Linked DNA regions of Homo sapiens. The protein of the gene in region 2 purifies or fractionates together with the protein of the main gene of each other region. This does not show direct contact. Each region holds a gene or a part of one and is shown on either strand. Other genes may lie near its edges.

Evidence for each region.
Region 1: the proteins of PIANP (region 2) and ADCY9 purify together in Homo sapiens (affinity purification with mass spectrometry; 2 studies listed by BioGRID and IntAct, with this or other methods). This does not show direct contact.

Annotation. Positions count from the first base shown.
Region 1 is NC_000016.10:3,969,943-3,973,442, forward strand, and holds part of ADCY9 (adenylate cyclase type 9), read right to left. Parts: intron 1-3,500. UniProt on the Homo sapiens protein: Adenylyl cyclase that catalyzes the formation of the signaling molecule cAMP in response to activation of G protein-coupled receptors.
Region 2 is NC_000012.12:6,695,554-6,697,815, forward strand, and holds part of PIANP (PILR alpha-associated neural protein isoform b precursor), read right to left. Parts: intron 2,240-2,262; coding exon 1,734-2,239; intron 972-1,733; coding exon 890-971; intron 99-889; coding exon 1-98. UniProt on the Homo sapiens protein: Acts as a ligand for PILRA in neural tissues, where it may be involved in immune regulation.

The sequences.
Region 1 (3,500 bases), on a different chromosome or scaffold from region 2:
TAGACAAAAAAGATTTGTCCATCGTCCTGCCATCCAGAGGCAATCACTATTAACATTTGTTGAACTGCATTCTAGTCTTTTTCTTTTTTACAACACCGTGACTGTTCTGTTCATGTAAATGCTGTACCCTGATGCATTCCTCCCGCGCACAGAGTAGGCCAGTTGATTTGATGCAATAATGGGCTTGGTCACTATATACTTATATATGCGACTGGCGGATCCACAGTTTAGACAGCTCCATCACACTGGAAAGCTCAATTCTTTTTCTTTTAGAGACAGGGTCTCGCCATCTTGCCCAGGCTGGTCTTGAACTCCTGAGCTCAACCAATCTGCCTGCCTTAGCCTCCCCAAGTGCTGGGATTACAGGGATGAGCCACCACGCCTGGCCAAAACTCAATTCTTCTTTTTTCTTTCTTGCTCTGTTGCCCTGGCTGGAGTGCAATGGCGCGACCTTGGCTCACTGCAACCTCCGCTTCCAGGTTCAAGTGATTCTCTTGCCTCAGCCTCCCGAGTAGCTGGGACTACAGGTGTGCGCCACCATACTTGGCTAATTTTTGTATTTTTTAGTAGAGACAGGGTTTCACCATGTTGACCAGGTTGGTCTGGAACTCCTGACCTCAGGTGATCCACCCGCCTTGGCCTCCCAAAGTGCTGGGATTACAGGCACGAGCCACCATGCCCGGCCAAAAGCTCAGTCCTTTAATCAAAGTGTCTAATAAGTTTCACTAACTGTTCTTGGGATATTAAAAAACAATGAGCTTGACCTGTGTGGCCATCACGGCCCTCTGCGAAGCACAACCGCCAAAAGCCCTGGCCGTGGGTGGAACAGAACCCCTGGGCCCCATCCTGGCTGGACCGCGGGGGAGTTTCAGAATCTTGGGTAAGCCATGCCATCTTTCTGGGTCTCAGTTTCCTCGCTTGTAAGCTGTGAAGATGGACTGGAGCATGGCTACGTCCCTTCCAGCCTAAGGTTCCGTGCAGGAAAGGCCTGAGGCTGCCATCCTTGGAAAGACCTGCCTGCAAAGGTGGTGGCTGGCACCAGGGAGCTGGGATTTGGGGAGGGTTCCTGCCATTCCTTGATAAGAGCGGCTCACACTGCCTACACTGTCTAAATAAGGAGGTTTACGCTGAATACCCGCTTTCCTGCTGGAAGTCTGGAATTTAGGCACGTGCTGGGCAGAGGCGGGAGACCTGAACAGCCCCTAATACAAGCCTGGACACCGAGACTTTAATGAGCTTCCCTGGTAGGCAGCATGTTACAAGTGTTGTCACCACTCACTGCTGGAGGAATTAAGCCCATCCCGTGTGACTCTACCGGGAGAGGACTCTTGGAAGCTGGTGCCGGCTTCCTCCAAACGTCAACTCACACACCCTTCCCTTTGCTGATTCTGCCTTATGTCTTTTCGCTGTAATCACAGCGGTGAGAGAGCAGATTGCGGAGTCCTGAGTCCACCTGGGGCTGGTCTTGGGAGCCCTGATACGGGCTTTGTGACTCAACGCCTATGACCAGGAACCAAGAGTCCTCAGTGGGAAGACACCCTGTGCTTCACTGACTCATTTCGTGAACTGCTATTGAAACAGATGACATTACATATCCTACATCTCAAGTACTAAGCAAAATAACCATTTGTTACGATGATGACTCAAACATATTTCTGTCCAGCTCCATGAGCCCTCTGGTTGATTGTAAATAGAGCAGGAAGAGAATATGGACTGGGGGAAGGTTTTGTGAGCCCCGCTCGTTGGGTTAGGAGTTGACCTTTCTTTTGGTTTCTCAAAGTGGTGACACCAAGAACAGTCCCCTTTAGGAGCAGGTGTCACCAAGGTCTAACATCCCCATTATGTGCAGGGGGTGTTTCCAGTCTCTGTGGTGGAAATGGGAGACTGTATCTGGGCTTCTCAATCAGTTATCGCTTGTACAGCTCACTCTAATCTGCGGGAGCCGGAGCCAGCAGCACAGCTGACTCGAGACGGGCGCAGGCCAGGCCCCTCCAGGCAGAGGAGGGACAGCAGCACATGGGCTAGTGCCAGAGGGAGAGGAAGGCAGAGCACAGCGTTTGCTTTCCACCTTTGCTTCCAAGGAAGAAAAGCCATCACACACAGCATGTGCACTCAGAAACCAAGGGGGCTGCCTCGCAACAGAAGGCATCTGTAAGAAACAGGTACGAGGACAGCTTCCCAGCTAGAATGTGTGTTTCCTATTTTAATACCAAAGGAACAAAGGAGCCGATCCTATTCCTAAATTCAAATAGCAAAGATCCACTTCAAAAAGAAGAATTTCTTTTTCTTTTCTTTTTTTTTTTTTGAGATGGAGTCTTGCTCTGTCCCCCAGGCTGGAGTGCAGTGGTGCGATCTAGGCTCACTGCAACCTCTGCCTCCCGGGTTCTAGCAATTCTCCTGCCTCAGCCTCCCGAGTAGCTGGGATTACAGGTGCCCGCCACCACGTCCAGCTAATTTTTGTATTTTTAGTAGAGATGGGGTTTCACAAACATGTTGGTCAGGCTGGTCTCGAACTCCTGACCTCAGGTGATCCACCTGCCTCAGCCTCCCAAAGTGTTGGGATTACAGGCGTGAGCCACCACACCTGGCTCAAAAAGAGGCATTTCATGTGACTAAATGCAGGAGTTAATTTATAAGTCATAAATGGAAGTTAGAGTAAAATACAGTGTAATCCGTTATCATGGAGAAGAGGGATTGAAAAACTGAAAAAAATAGAAAGCAAACATCACTTGCAGTCCTAACCAGCCAAACGTGGCTTCGGTTGACACTTTGGTATATTTCAGTGCCATTTAAAATCTGCCCCTAGGGAGGTGGTCAGGTCGGGGGAGAGGGGGTCAGCAGCGGTGGGGTTGGAGGGCTTCTGGGGTAGTGGTAATGCTCTACTTCTTGGTCTGGGTGGTAGTTAAATGGGTGTGTTCTCTGGTGAAAATGCACTGAGCTGTCCTTTTATGATCAGGTACTCTTCTGTGCATACTGACATACACATCAATAAAAGGTTAAAAAAAGATGCTAGGTGCTTTACTTTTAAGTACTAAAGCTGTAATCATCACTCATTCATTATATCCTAAGTATAAATCTTGTACATATTTTTACTATATATAAATACCTAGTTGTACCTATAGTACATATATAGTTTCACCTAGTAAATGAAAATCTTAAATGTTTTCCATATTTACTGCATTTTAACAGTTGTATTATTTGAGTAAATGTATAATCAGTTAATTTATTTATTATTGACAACTACAGTTGCTAATGAATCTTTTTTTTATTTTATTTTATTTTTTGAGACAGAGTCTCACTCTGTCGCCCAGGCTGGAGTGCAGTGGCCGATCTTGGCTCACTGCAACCTCCGCTTCCCAGGTTCAAGCAATTCTCCTGCCTCAGCCTCCCAAGTGGCTAGGATTACAGGTGCCCACCACCACCCCAGCTAATTTTTGTATTTTTAGTAGAGACGGGGTTTTGCCATGTTGGCCAGGCTGGTCTTGAACTCCTGATCTCAG
Region 2 (2,262 bases):
CAGCCGGGGACAGGTCTGTCAGTGGCTGCTGGCTCTCCTCCTGCCTCAGGGCACCTTGCTGCCCTGAGGGTCTGCGTCGCTTCTGGCTGCGGTCCCAGCTGGGGTACCAGAGGAAAAGAGGTTCTCTTGCACACTCAAGTAGCCCCCATCCTGGGCCTGCACCAGTGGTCACCCCCAGCCTCGCCCAGTCACTCCCAACATCTTATAGCAGAGAAACTGGCCTTTAACAGTTCTCTCTACTAAATCCCCTGGGACTCTGTGCCCATAAAGCCACTTCCCCTGCCCTCTAGGGGAGCTTGGTAATCTAAACCTCCTTACCCTCCAAACCTGATCCAGATCGACAAAATTAATATCCCCTCCCCACCACCACAATGTCCTCTCCCCTACATGCCCAGAAGAGTCATTTCTGTCTTCAGCAGACAACTGGCAGGTTTAGTTCTAGTTCAAAGCAAGCTGATGACTTGGACACCTGAGTCTAATGATTCTCTCAGTAAAGTGTGAAGGACTGAGTGATCCATTATTAAATGTGTGCAAAGAAAGCTCCAGGTTTTCTTGCTCCCCCCAGGCAACCCTAAGAAGGGCTCTGCAGACTGGGTCAGCTTTCTCTGTCTTGGAGGAAGTAGGGGCAGGGGAGGCTCACCAGGAATGCACAGGAATAATTCCCCTGCCCTCCCTTATCCTTGTATTTCCCTGGGAGACAGAATCTGCCCTGATTTCTCACCGTCTTCCCCCAGCCAAATCCTTAATTATCTTTTCCCAAGGTCTTGCCTTCATCCAGCATTTCCCACCCACCCCCCAGCAAAATTGCTGCCACTGCCCCTCGTGGTTAGAGCCTCGACTGCCAAACATTCCGTCCCCATCCACCAGCACCTTCCTCCTCCCAGCTTACCAGAACTTGAAGATGATGCCAGTGGCCACGAGAACAATGATGATGGAGATGGTAATTGTGACATAGAGCTGGGGGTCCACACCTGATTGGGGTGGGAAGAAAGTTTTAGGGAGCCCCGAGGTGGTAGGAGCCAAGAGGGGCTGGGGGCTGGGCTGTGGGCTCTGTCGGCTGGAGTGGCATTGCTGTGTGGATCCACACTGCCGGCTCTGTCTGCCCCTCTGGAGCCTCACTCTTTATTATCACCAGCATTCCCCTGAGTTTTCAGCTCTTTTCCTCCACTTTCCCAAATGTATTTCACCAAATCTTATGTGTATATGTGATGAGGATGAGGCCCCATGATCAGCGAGAACCTATCACTATGCCTGGAAACTAAGGGGTGGAGATGTCCTAGTCTCTGCCATGGCCCAACTCCCAAACCACAGGCCCTGTTCCTCCATCAGCACTCCCTGAGCCAAGACATCTCCCGGGTAGTGCCCTTCATTCATGGCATTCTCTGCCCAGAATACTCCCACTCTCTTTTCAAGGGCCAGCTCAAATGTCAGTTCTCTGAAGGTGTCCTGATCCCCAAGCAGGAGGAGACTCTCACTTCTCTTTTTTTGTAAATCATGCTGCACATGCCTCTATTAAAGCATTTATTACGATGACTCCTCTCCAAGTCCTTTCATGTCTGTCTGCTCCAGTGGACCTGAACTCCGAGAGGGTGTCTTTATCTCTGCATCCTGTGCCAGTATAGTGCCTGACACATTTGTTGAAGGAGCTAACAGACAAGGCCTCTATTTCTGCCCCTTGGTGTCTTCACCCAGCCTCCCCATCCGTCATATCCCTCCCAGCCTTTCCCACTCACCTTCCCCACGGCCCCCGAACAGGAATGGCCGCAGGGTGGCAGGTGCCTCTCCAAGGATAAGCCCATCTCCATCACCTCGCATGGAGTCTGAGTTGGGGTGTGGGGTTGCGAGCCCATGAGGGGCTGCAAAACCATAGTCCAGAAATCCGGGATTGGCAGAGTTGGGGTCCCCTCCATCCTCTCGAGACACGGTGGGACCCCACACGATAGCCCAGGGGTATTGGGATGAGGGCGGCCCCTCCTCAAAGCCTGATGGGGTGGCTGGGGGTGCAGTGCCAGGCAGGACTTGCCGACGTGATCTTGGGACCCGAGGAGATCGGCTTGGTGGAGGTGCTCGCTCCCACACGCACACATGACGTGGGGCCGAGGGGCCTCCCCTGGCACACGGGGGGCGGGCTGGGGCTGGTGGGGTTCGAGGGGAGGATGAAGAGCCCTGAGCAGGCGGTGGGAGGGGCAGCAACAGCAGTGGCCAGAGAGGGAGGAGGTGGGACAGCAGCAGCGCAGGCCTGCAAGAAGGGAGAGAGCGTGG